Linked DNA regions of Homo sapiens. The protein of the gene in region 1 interacts with the protein of each later gene in a pairwise test. Each region holds a gene or a part of one and is shown in the gene's direction. Other genes may lie near its edges.

Region 1 (7,023 bases):
ATAAACTTTGGGGGACATATTCAAACCACAGCACTAGTATATATAATATGTCATATTGATCCCTATATCCACATATTTGCTCTATAAGTGCTCTATTTACATATTCATTGAGTTGACCTATATAGTACCCAGCATATTTAGGTTTTGCGGTAGAGAACAAATAGTAAAAGATTCAAAGATTCTGTATGCTAACTAGAGAGATAAAACTAAGTTTAACACCTCTGCTACCATTTCTCAAATATCACAGAATTAATAAGAAAAATAGCAGAAATTAAATGTTCAGTCACTTGGCTTTTCAAGTACTTCCCACAAGATTAGATTAACGGCTGGGTGAGGTAGCTTATGCCTGTAATCCCAACTCTTTGGGAGGCCAAGGCAGGTGGATCACCTGAGGTCAGGAGTTGGAGACCAGCCTGGCCAACATGGTGAAATCCTGTCTCTACTAAAAATACAAAAATTAGTCAGGCATGGTGGTGCACACCTGTAGTCCCAGCTACTCTGGAGGCTGAGGCCAGAAAATTGCTTGAACTCAGGAGGTGGAGGTTGCAGTGAGCCGAGATCGCACCACTGCACTCCAGCCTAGGCGATAGAGTGAGACTCTGTCTCAAAAAAAAAAAAAAAAAAAAGATTAGATTAACAGTATCTCCAGAAATGGTTACCATATGTTACTACATTTTAAGTTCCTTTCAGAACCATAAGTATAGAGGAGTTAGTGGAACCAATGATAAATCTGGATTTTTTTTCTTCTTTCTTTGGATCTGTGCCTGAAATGGCAAATTATGTGCAATTTGGGGCACAGTGTCACTTATGATTTCAAGGAGCCTAAGAATCAGCAGAGGGATACAGTCTTTTGATAAAACTCTGCCTGGTCTTTTCATTTTGGATAGTATATTACTGGAAACTTCAGAAGAAAATGAGGGAGTTTCAGAAAGGAACTGAAGAGGTTGATGACTGAAAAGGATGATTGAACACCAAAATCTGCAGTTGATTAGGATGCAGACGTGGAAAGGAAGCATGTATATAAATAAAAGGGTATGTTACTAAAATCCGCAAAAAGTAGAATGAGGCAAAATATCTCCATTGTCATGATGTTCCATTTTATACTGAGTTGGATAAGTCTCATAAGGGATCTGATAGTTGAGGTCACTAATCCTTAATACATGAACCAAGGAATAAGAATTCTGTTTATCATAGGAAATAACTTGGGCCCATAAGGAAGGAGTAGAGACTCTTCAGGAGAGGGACATTTTAGTCCATAATTTCTCTGATTTAGTGCCAAAAGCTTTTTTGAGAGACTATTCAAAGCTGTCTTAAGTTTCATTGTTGGAAATTGATAGCTGCTGTATTTCTTTTTAATAACTGTTTTAAGTTCTTTCTGTTTTGTCTTCTCGGTTGCTAAATTCCTGAAGATTACAAAAAAAGTGTGCTTAAAGTAAAAGTGTTATGAGACAAAAGCTTTATTCTGTGGATAGGATAATACTTCTTTTGTAACATTTTCTGTTTGCACCAAAAGTGAGAAGTCAATGCCTTGCCTTTGTGCATCCCATTACTAATGGAGGATAAGAAGTTATTTTCTTCAAAGGCTGACTTCCAGAATTTTTGGCTGAACACTTTTTGTCAAGTGTATATTCCCTTTGTAGGCCTTTCTGTATAGAGCCCACAAACATCGTGAATGTGAATCATGTCATTCAGAGGGTTAGTGACCATGCCTCTGCCATGAACAAGAGAATTCATTACTACAGCCGGCTCACCACTCCTGCAGACAAGGCACTGGTAAGAGACAAAACATTACTAATAGTCTAAAATTCAGTTGAAATGAACAGTGAACAATATAAGCCAGGGCACCTCCCAGTGATTGAACTTCTTTCTGACTGTATTTCAAGGACAGCATCATGCAAAGTCAAAGATAGTAATTAACACACATCCTACATCTCAGGCCAGTTCATTCTTATCTAAATTTGAAACAATGTTTCTATGTTGACAACAACCTGGAGATTTTTTTGGATTAAATTCTCCTGATCCCCATTCCCCAAATCTCTGAGGAGGATAAATTACTTTTGAAATGGCAAGTTAGGCCATTGACTAATAGCAAATAATAACATGTTCTGCTTAGTGTGGACAATTTTAACTTTGAAGCTGTAAGGGAAATATTTTTTTAGAAATTTTCTACAAGAATGGGAAACTGGCCAAGCACAGTGACTCACTCCTGTAATCTCAGCATTTTGGGAGGCCAAGGCAAGAGGATCACTTGAGCCCAGGGGTTCAAGACCAGCCTGGAGAAGATGGTGAAACCCTGTCTCTACAAAAAAAAATTTTTTTAATTAGCCAAGCATGATGGCTCGCACCTATAGTTCCAGCTACTTGAGAGGCTGAGACAGGAGGATCCCTTGAGCCCAGGATGGATCCCTTGAGGATGCAGTGAGCTGTGATTGTGCCACTGCATCCCACCCAGACTGAGCAAAAGAGTGTGACCCATCTCTTTTTTTTTGAGATGGAGTGTCGCTCTATCACCCAGGCTGGAGTGCAGTGGCGCAATCTCGGCTCACCACAACCTCTGCCTCCTGGGTTCCAGCCATTCTCCTGCCTCAGCCTCCTGAGTAGCTGGGGTTACAGGTGTGCGCCACCACACCTGGCTCATTTTTGTATTTTGAGTAGAGACACGGTTTCACCATGTTGGCCAGGCTGGTCTTGAACTCCTGACCTCGTGACCCACCCACCCTGAGGTGCTGGGATTACAGGCGTGAGCCACTGTGCTCCCAAAGTGCTGGGATTACAGGCGTGAGCCACTGTGCCCGGCCATGTGACCCCATCTCTTAAAAAAAAAAAAAAAGAAGAATGGGAAACTGAAATATGTACACATAAATATAGTAGTTTCTTATTTAGCATTATTCTTTTATTGATCAAAACCAGGAGTCAAAGAGCCAGATACTAAATGTCTTAGACTTTGAGGTCACATGATATTCTTCATTTTGTTTATGATCATCAAAATTATAAATTATAAAATTTATAAAATTATAAAAACCATTCTCAGGAAAGAGGCTGTATAATAATCAGGTTGAAACCAGATTTGGCCTATGGGCCGGAGTTTGTTGACCCTTGATCTTCTAAAAATCTCTATTACTATTTTAGGATAAAAAATATATATAAGTAATTTGGTAGTTTATAAAAACTACCGCATATGAGATAGTCAGAAACTTGCAAGTTTAACTGAAAATAAGAACATTCTGGGAGAAAACAGGATTTTGAAATTAGTATTATTAATAAAAAGAAGAGAACCAACATTCATTAACATTTAATAAGGACCAGTGATTGGGCATCACTGGAATGTAGCTATCTCATTTAAGCCTAAACAATAGCTATGTGAAATAAATATTAAGATTTCCTCTTGTATGGCCAAAATAGGGATTTCCAAAATGTTCTGGGTAGGATAATTTTTTTCCCAATTTTTTTTTCGGCTTTTTCCCCTTAGGCCTTGACATCAGTAGTTGTGGCGAAGTCTTAGTTCCATAATGGAATTACTTAAGCCCTTGGAGGAGTAGAGATAATCCTGTATCTCTGGGTCTAGTTGAGACCTTCTAGAGGCTCTGCTCTTGGAAACAAACCTCCAAGATCCCAGATGAGCAAGTTTATACCTGCATGTATATTGTTTGCCTGGAAATAGAGTCAGCATGTGCACCAAAGTTGAATGCCATTTGTTAACTGACACTGAGATGAGTCTAGGAAGTCAAAATATATAAACAGTGATGTAAAATTGACAATGATATAACCATTCTTAATGAATGTGTGTATACATCCACACTCGTTTTCTGAAAATCCCAAAACTATTTTGGATTTTTAAACTCTTGCTTTTTTAGTTAGATTTTCTATATTTGAAAAATAATTTTTAAATTCACTAATCAGGGATGCATAGTACTTGCATCCACACTCGTTTTCTGAAAATTCCAAAATTATTTTGGGTTTTTAAAACTTGCTTTTTTAGTTAGTTTTTCTATATTTGAAAAGTCATTTTTTAATTCACTAATCAGAGATTCATAGTACTTGTTTATGATAGTTAAAATGTGTCTAGAGGGCCAGGCGTGGTGGCTTACGCCTGTAATCCCAGCACTTTGGGAGGCCGAGGCGGGTGGATCATGACATGGTCAGGAGATCGAGACCATCCTGGCTAACATGGTGAAACCCCGTCTCTACAAAAAAATACAAAAAATTAGCCAGGCGTGGTGGTGGGCACCTGTAGTCCCAGCTACTCGGGAGGCTGAGGCAGGAGAATGGCGTGAACCCAGGAGGCGGCGCTTGCAGTGAGCCGAGATCGCGTCACTGCACTCCAGCCTGGGCGACAGGGCGAGACTCCGTTCAAAAGAAAAAAAAAGGTGTCTAGAGTCAGGTGTTCTGATGTGTAACAAATATCCTATTTTGCATTTCCTGGTTCTGAAATTTATCTATGTTTCCTTTTTACCAGATTGCCCCAGACCATGTAGTTCCAGCTCCAGAAGAGTGCTATGTGTATAGTCCATTGGGCTCTGCTTATAAACTTCAAAGTTACACTGAAGGATACGGTAAAAACACCAGTTTAGTAACCATGTGAGTGAAACTGCTTTTTGGAGCATGACTTAAACTGTATATGGATGAAAATTACTGGTTTTTTAAATTTTTGTCTCAATTAAAATGTTTGAAGAGTGAAACTCCATTTTTTTACTGCTATTACTCTGTGTTTTCAGTTTTATGATTTGGAATACCATGATGGGAACATCTATACTAAGCATTCCTTGGGGCATAAAACAGGTAATACTAATTTTTCAGCACACTTTTTGCCTAAATGTTTTTCTCTTTATATTGTAAGTTTTATAACAGAGGTTTTAATAAATCTACATAAAATTCATTAAAGAAAATAGATGGTTATATTTAGTTTTTCATGAGTTGTCAAGTTTTTATCATGATTGTTTAGGGTAAAATAATTGCATATGAATTTATGCTTACATGATGATATATGCTGTTTTATACTTTTATTTTTAAACAGGCTGGATTTACTACTGGAATGTGTGTCATCATACTGATGGGCCTTTTAACACTTTATTGCTGCTACAGAGTAGTGAAATCACGGACTATGATGTGTAAGAATTTGACACAGTGACAATAGATTATGGGTATTAATAAGCATTTCCCTTTGAGGCAGATCACTAGTGTGTATATGCTACATGTGTGTCAGCTGTCTACTTTGTACCTAAAGATTTACTTCTGTAATTCATCGCTTTCAGCTAAATTGATTTGCTAATAATATTTAGTGGCTGCTTTTGAAATTCAGAGAAGCTGGGAGTTATTTGCAGAGTGCATTCACTTTGGTGCTAGTTTCTTCATAAGAATCATTTAAAAACTCATATTTATAAAATAATGTCTTTGCCAAAACTAAATTGAGAATTCTGTGCTTCCTGTCAGTTAATGGTGACTTGTTTTGACCTATTCATACCAAAAGATCTAAATGTTAGAATCTGCTAAAAGTAGAAATTATAACTAGAAAAATATGAAAATGTAAGCAACTCCCTAGTAATGAATATTTGAAGTTGTGTGAACACCTTACCTCTACTCGTATCTACAAATTCTGGATCAGGGAAATATCTTTTTTAGGTTGTTTTAAAGTAGTCTAGGACCTAAACAAACATGCATTATTTCATTAAATCTTAGCAAGTATGAATCAACAGGCCAGACTTTGCCTCCAGTTTTTTTCTGTGCCTACTAAGCAGCTTCCTTCTTTATGTTAACCAGATCTCCTATTAGTCACTGGGCAAGTATTTGTTTAAAAGTCTTGAGAAGCCAGACCTGGTGGTGTGTGTCTGTAGCCCTAGCAACTCAGGAGGCATAGGTGGGAAGATCACTTTAGCCCAGGAGTTTGGGGCCAGCCTTGGCACTGTAGCAATACTTCATCTTAAAAAATAAAAAATAAATAAAAAATAAAAAAGTCTTGAGAGAAGATTCATTCTGGTTTCTAAATGGTAAGAGGAGATAATTTTAGCCTCTGGTTTCTAAGGCAAATTGTGGCTGAACTTGGAAGACTTCTTTAAATGTATACAGTAAGTTCATGTCTTATCTAATTCAGCATCTCATTTAAAATTGGAACAGAGCCCCCACAGAGTTCTCTCTATAACTGTTTTTTCTTTTATTTTCCTTTTTTTTGGAGACAGGATCTCACTGTCACCCAGGCTGGAATGCAGCAGCGCTATCACAGCTCACTGCTGCCTGGACTTCCCGGGCACAGGTGATTCTCCCACCTCAGCCTCCCAGGTAGCTGGGACTACAGGTGCATACCACCATGCCCAGTTAATTTTTTGTATTTTTCATAGAGACAGGGTTTCACCATGTTGCTCAAGTTGGTCTCGAACTACTGGGCTCAAGTGATCTGCTCACCTCTGCCTCCCAAAATGCTGGGATTATTGGCTCTATAACTGTTAACTTCCATGTTATTAAACTACTCCACACCATTTAAAAAGAAGAGAGGCTGAGGCACGAGAATTGCTTGAACCCAGGAAGTGGAGCTTGCAGTGAGCCAAGATTGTGCCACTGCACTTCAGCCTGGGTGATGGAGTGAAACACTGTCTTAAAATAAAATAAAATAAAATAAAAATAATAAAAAGAAGAACTTCCACCAATTCATTTTACAAAGTCCACACACCCCTAACACAAAGCCTGACACTACCAAAAAGAAAGAAAATAATATAGAAACGTAAAATTTATTTGTAAAACATTATCATATAGAATCCAACAGTATATCAAAACATATCCTGTGCCTAAGATAAGGTTTATTCCAGTAATGCAAGGATGTTTCATTATTAAGAAATCCAACATAATTCACTACATTAACAAATTAAAGAAAAATTCATAATTACATCAATAGATATCAAAAAGGCACTTAATAGAATTCAGCACCTGTTTCTGATTAAAACTCTAAGTGAAAAGCACTACTTAAAAATAGCAAAGTCTATTTATTCCCAGACAAGTACCGGCACCATTCTAAAATTATGAAATGCTAAAGCA
Region 2 (6,951 bases), on another chromosome or scaffold:
ATAAGTGAAAATAATATATTTTGTAAACAGATTACATTTGAACACCTAAATAAGTATTTGTTTCATAATCATTACATGCTTGTTTATGATTTACAAAGATTTGGTAGAGAAAAGTACAGTCCTTAAGGCATATATATGCCAATGCATTAAACTACTCAGCTTTTGTGCCAGCTCAGGTGTTCATAGGAACAGGAATGTGGAATACCAGCTTTTTACTTTAATTATACTTTTATGCTGAATTTTTCTTCCAGTTAAACCTTTAATTACACTAGTATGTAAAGTAGTTACTGAGAAAAATAAGTTTTTGATTTCCCTTCTGTTGATCTGTAACATTTTTAAATGAAGCTATTTAACACATGACATGCTAATGTTACTTAATGGATTCCTATGTATTTCATTAAAAAAAAGTCTCCCACCTGTGTTAAGACAGCTAAATATTTCTTGATGTTGGCTTGAGGACCAAGTGAGCCATCTTGCCAGTTAAGCAAGTTTTATATCAGAGGACCAAATGGTTAAGAAGAGAATTTGTACATTTCTTGAGCTTCCCCATGTGAAGCTTGGGTTCAGTACTATCCTATTACTATCCATCTTCATAATGAGTGAAGCAAACTGAAAGGGAATTCATAATCTTTTTTCTTATCTGAACAGAAAAACTAATGAAAATCAACAATAAATCTTTATTTTAATTTTCATTCAACAGCTGAAAAACCATGTCTGTTGACCACATTGGACCATTGCCTAGTTAAAATCCATAAAATTCCCTATAAACCAATGAAAAGAAACTTGTCTGGCAATAATTTCCAACATTTTAAATTCTAATTTTTAGTTACAAAGAAAAAGGATAGAATGAGGCTTTTCAAGGAATTCTTGCTCATCCCTTCAATTATTTGGCAGGTAAAACAGTCCTAGAATTCAGCTTCCTTTTTGGTTTTATTACTATTAAATAGATACTTTCATATAAATGGAAACACTTTTCCTCAAAACATTAATTCAAAACATACTCCTTATATTAAGGATTATAGCACCATATTTTTTGTATATTCCCTATGTGTAACTTTTTCCTGTTGGTATGTGATATTTTTCATTTAATATGACTATCTGCTGGTGTTGGGGCCAATAGATTTGTGAATATTCTGTGGATGTGTCTATGTATAGGTGTATATATATATATATATATTTTTTTTTTTTTTTCCCAGCTAATTACCTCAAATGTGTGATTGTTTAATATATACCACACTATGTTTGCACAGAGCAGGGCTTCCATTAGCAGTGGATATTTTTATGTCTGACTTTGAAAATCAGTCAACACAATTTCATTGGTGTGAATTATTTGTTGCTCTTTTTCATATTTTAATGGAGAGATTCCTATTATAAGGCCCATGCTTCAAACATAATTATATCTTTCTATATCCAGCCATCTGGAAATACATAGGGGTAAGAAGTATTTCTTGAAATGTCCTTGTTTAGTAAGTTAGTAAAAACTGGGATGACTAGTTGCCAAGATGTCTTGTAACTGCATAGCAGATGACACCTGGCATGGCAAGTCTCATTCACTTCAGCACAACACTCTGTACATTTCAGTCTGATATTCTACTTTGCCATTTAAGGACACCATTAAAATCATAGAGATTTTCAGTGACATTGGAGTATTGTAATTATTACTTTCAAAAAATTATTTTTAATAGGATGATTAAACCAATGAGAAGAAACACACATAAATGATATTTTGCAGTTTATCTGTATTAAGAAATGCTTCTTGCCAATTTCTAGTTTTAGTTTTTGGATTGCTACATAAGACTTTCTTTCCATTTACTTTATGTGTTTTTAAAAGCTGCAGGTAATTTTTAAGGTTTGATGGAATTATAATGGAAGCCTTGTATAAGTTAAATGAAATTGGTAAAGGAGAGCTTACTTTGTCTATAATGCATTCAGGATTAAAAATTAGATTTCAAAATGAAATGTCTGATTTGTAAAATATTTAATGTTATATCAGACTTACATAAAATTTTCTGTGAGAACTCAAATGCATTTGATTTTTAATGAATGTTCTGAATGAAATATGAATTTTTGTCTTTCAGTCTCTGTAGTTTATCTCAATATATTAATAAAAAGGTCTGTTCTCACTGTAAAATGTTTGTTTTTATCATGTTTTATACTCAATATGGCCACTCTTTCATTCATTCAACTATTCAACAAGTATGTCAATGCTTGCTATATCCCAGGCAGTGAGCTGGGTGCTGGGAATTAATCACTGAATAAGAAAGACAAAAACCTTAAAGAGTTTACATCTAGCAAAGAAAATAAATATCAAGTAAATAATTATAATTATGATAAATTCTACAAAGAAAATTACAGGGTACAATGAAAGCATTTATCTAGAAGACCTAAACTATTCAGTGAGGGTCAGGGAAGGCTTCTCTGAGAGTGAGTTTAAGCCAAAATGCAAAAGATGAGATTAGTAGGATTAAGGTATGCTAGAGAAATATCTCAGGCAGAACGTGCTAAGTTGGTAAAGTGATAAAAATCTTTATGGAAGTGAAAACAAACTTGTATGATCATAGCATAAGGAATCCAGGGTAGGTGAGAGAATTAAGATAGGGGCCAGATCCCCATAAGAATGATATATAAACCATGATGCTGATATTGAACTTTATCCTAAGTCAATAAACTTGATTTTCAAGGAAGGAGTTAAATGATGTGATTTGGGTCTTTAGAACATCATTTTTGTTGCTGTGTGGAGACTGGAGGGCAAAAGAGAATGTAAGAAGAATAGGAGGTTGTTGTCAAAAGAGAGATGATCATGGCTTGGAGTAGGGTAGGAATATAGATAGGTGAATAGTTTTCAAAGATAGGAGGTAGAATCAACAGAACTCTGATTAGATTTGTGACATATGGAAGCAGCAATTGAAAACCAGGCTAAAGTTTTCTGAAAATTTGGCTATGAAAGGGAGTAGAGGAAAAACAGTGTGGTAGCTGAAAGAGGATGCGATTTCTAAAGAAGCTTTTCTTTTGAGGGTCTCGCTCTGTCACACAAGCTGGAGTTCAGTGGGGCGATCACCACTCGATGCAGCCTCAAACCCTGGGCTCAAGGGATCCTCCTGCCTCAGCCTCCCGAGTACCTGGTGCACGCCACGTTCGGATAATTCTTAATTATTATTATTATTTGTAGAGATGGGGTCCTATCTTGCCAGGCTGCTGTGGAACTCCTGGGCTCAAAGGATCGTCCCGCCTCGGACTCCCAAAGTGCTGCGACTACAGGCGTCAGCCACCGCACCCGGAAAGCCTTTTATTTTTTTCAATTATTATTTATTACATGAGACCTTACTAATTTTTAAAAATTCTGATGTAAAAGGGAACATAGAAGGTGCCCGTAATCAGTGTCTGCATGTTAAAAGTAGACGCTTGAAGTGCTCCAGAAAACCCATGGCTCCTCCCCATTCAATCTAGGTAAGGCCTTCAGTAAAGAGCACCCATGGGGAAGTCACAAGAGCCTAGGAAACAGGTCAGAAACCTGTGGACCTGGTACTTCCAATCACAGGCAATCTGGTGCTTGCTCTTCAGCTCATCACACCATCCCCTCAAATTTCTTCATCTACAAGAAAAGGTTTTAAGATAACAGACCCTGCAAAACTAATGACATTTATACACCCTCTCTGCACAAGAATGTCTTGTAACACATAACCTTGCTTGCATTTTCTGGGTTCCTTAGGGTCCAGCGATCTCGTACAAATCTACCCCACAGCTGACTTCCTTCGGCCCGTGACACAAGGCGCAGGCGCAAGACGCGGCCCGCGGTGGGCGGGGGAGGGGCGGGGCGCGTGCGGGGCGGGGGGGAGGGGAGGGGCGCGGCCGCCGGACGCGCCCTCGCAGCTTCCGCCGGGCCCCTCCGGAAATCCCGTATCGTAGGGCGACGGCGGCTTAGAAAGTGCTTCCTGGAGCGCAGACGAGGTCATGAATCATGTGACGGTGGCTTGAGGAGGAACCTGTCTTTAAAGCTGTCCCTGAAGTGACAGCGGAGAGAACCAGGCAGCCCAGAAACCCCAGGTAACTGGCGCTACTTTGCCTGGTTTTGAGGCCTAGTCCCGCAGGTGGCGCGGGTGGTGAGATTAAACAGAAGGAGAGGACCCTCTCTTCTTTTCTTTGGGCCTAGCTCTTTGGGGTGGAGGGGCAGGGATGGGGTGGGCTGAGGTAAGGTGTGCCAGCTGAGTACCTGTGGGGGTGCTGGGGCACTCCGACTCCCACTGGGCTCGCTGGGCCAAGCCCTAGAACCGCGGGGGTTTTACCTGGTTCTGACCAGGGCTGATCTCGCGTATTAAGTTGTGGGTGGGGAGGACGAGGAAGCCAAAGAGGGAAGAGTCACCGGGAGTTTCTCTTCCAGGCGTGGAGATTGATCCTGCGAGAGAAGGGGGTTCATCATGGCGGATGTGAGTGACACCCCTACATAAGAGGAAGGGGAGAGTGGGGAATTTTGAGGGGCATACTGAGCGGGGAGAGGTAGAACTTCCCAAACAGAAATTTGTTTTGATCCTCCCAGCCCCACCCATCCCAGTTAATTATTTTCTCTGATATCTGAAGTGGGAGACTAATATGAATGAATTTGCAGGATCCTGAGTTTCTGCCTCGAATGGGGGTGTAGGACACTAAGGTGCTTGAGACTGAGAAAATTAGGTTCTCCCTACTCCCCAGTCCAGCTGGGGCATAAGAGAGGCTCTGTATATTTACCATTTGAAATTCTGAATGATGGTTTGCTGCTTTTCCTGTCAGAATTTGGTCAGTAGGACATGTACCCACAATACTTTTTTCCAGTAAGTGATAACAATATCTCATTTGGTTTATTGTAGCAATTTACGATGATTTCTAACCCATGCCTCTTTAGAAACATGGTAACGTGTGTGTGTGTGTGTGTAGGAGGATAAAATGATCAGTCGGGTTTGGAGAATAGTAAGTGCTGGATGCTCAAAACAAGAGATACCTGATTAATCCATGTGAGGTCAAAATTGATACCTAAATTGTCAGTGAAATTCCTGGGATAAGAGAGTGTAATGAGACAAAATAAGATAGTCTTCTGGCCAATGCGGTTGCTTAGTCTGTAATCTCAGCACTTTGGGAGGCCGAGATGGAAGGATCACTTGAGGCCGGGAGTTCAAGATCAGCCTGGGCAACATAGCAAGACCCCGTTCTACAAAAAGAAATTTAAAAATCAGCCAGGCGCATTGATACCTCTGTAGTCACAGCTATGCTGGAAGTGAGGCGAGACGATTGCTTGAGCCCAGAAGTTGGAAGTTGCAGTGAGCCCCAGCTTAGAAAAATAAAATAGTCTTCTACTTCTTTAGTCTTAACTGTGTTTCGTGTTAAACACTTGACACACATTGTCATTTATTTTATATTCTGTAACACTGGGCTGGGCGCGGTGGCTCACGTCTGTAATCCCAGCACTTTGGGAGGCCAAGGCGGGTGGATCACCTGAGGTCAGGAGTTCGAGACCAGCCTGGCCAACATGGTAAAACGTTGTCTTTTCTAAAAATACAAAAAATTAGCTGGGCATGGTGGCAGGTGCTTGTAATCCCAGCTACTCGGGAGGTTGAGGCAGGAGAATCGTTTGAACCTGGGAGGCAGAGGTCGCAGTGAGCCGAGATCGCGCCATTGCACTCCAGCCTGGACAACAAGAGCGAAACTCCGTCTCAAAAAAAAAAAAAAATGTTGCCTCACATAGTCATATAGAATTTATTTTAGGTCCTTAAACAAAATATTTTAAAAATTACGTTATAATAATATGCCTTACACTGTTTCATTATTTGTTGAGTAGGTGAGTTCAACAAATAATGAAACAATGGAAGGCATATTTTTATAATGTGATAGTCACGTGAGACAACAGTCTTACAGAGGTCATATCACCTTACCCAAGACCATTAAGATGATGGTGGAAAGTCTATCTTTGAACATGGAAAGGTGTTTATAACGTCTTCTCAAGTGAACACAATAGCAACAGGATGTAAAACACTAGTATGAAAATTATGATGTAATTTTATGGCTAAAATGTGTTTCCCATTTCTAGGTATGCTAATCCATGCATCTTCTCAATAAACTTTTAACAACACTTTTATGATGTAGGTTCTATATTAGCCCTATTCAACAAATAATGAAATAAGCTTAGCGAAAAAAGGTTGGTTAACTTACTCCAAGTTGCGTGACTAGTAAACATCCAAATCAGACAGAGAAAGATAAAACACAGCAAGAAAGGTTATGAATGATAACTGAAGTTCCTTAAAATTTGGATAGGACAGGATCTAGAAAACAGTGGAAGGCCTATTATTACAACATTATTTTTTAATGCTCTCTTTCAGGACCTAAAGCGATTCTTGTATAAAAAGTTACCAAGGTAAGAAATTTTTAATTTGTTATTGAATAAATTCTATATGCCATATGTTAATTTTATGAAGCATTTTGTCTGTATTTTCCATGTTGTGAAGTATCTCTGAGATTTCCTTTAATATGAATATTTTTTGCCAGCCTCACGTCCTCTGGAAAATTTTCGTCACAACCGCTTTCCTCATTTATGTCAATAAGTTTGCCTTCACTGAGTTCTCTGTGTATCTAGAGCGATAGTGTCAGCATTCCCTTGGTCATCTGTTTCTTCTATAATTCTTTACTTTCTATTTGAAATTCAGCATTTCTATTTGAAATTTCAGCATTATTACTTTTCATTTCTTTGCTGTATTTCGTCTTTGTTGGCCAGTTTCCTCTTTTTATTATCTCTTTTTCTAAATGTCACATACTTTATCATTGGGAGACAAGGAGGTACAAAACTACATGCTTTGCTATCTCTGCATGAGCTGCATAACAGATGCACAGTGACCAACCATCAACATACTTTGAAAGAAATGATGTGGCTGGTTACTGATGACAGTGTGCATCTGTTAATTACATAATTATTTATGTAGTGATTTGTGG

Evidence for each region. The genes of interacting proteins can lie anywhere in the genome.
Region 2: the proteins of SLC38A9 (region 1) and LAMTOR3 interact in binary tests that used the Homo sapiens proteins (3 or more experiments, as listed by UniProt).

Annotation. Positions count from the first base shown.
Region 1 is NC_000005.10:55,667,313-55,674,335, reverse strand, and holds part of SLC38A9 (neutral amino acid transporter 9), read left to right. Parts: intron 1-1,640; coding exon 1,641-1,773; intron 1,774-4,456; coding exon 4,457-4,578; intron 4,579-4,715; coding exon 4,716-4,779; intron 4,780-5,014; coding exon 5,015-5,108; intron 5,109-7,023.
Region 2 is NC_000004.12:99,891,428-99,898,378, reverse strand, and holds the start of LAMTOR3 (ragulator complex protein LAMTOR3), read left to right. Parts: upstream 1-3,951; 5' UTR 3,952-4,044; intron 4,045-4,378; 5' UTR 4,379-4,415; coding exon 4,416-4,424; intron 4,425-6,344; coding exon 6,345-6,379; intron 6,380-6,951. UniProt on the Homo sapiens protein: As part of the Ragulator complex it is involved in amino acid sensing and activation of mTORC1, a signaling complex promoting cell growth in response to growth factors, energy levels, and amino acids.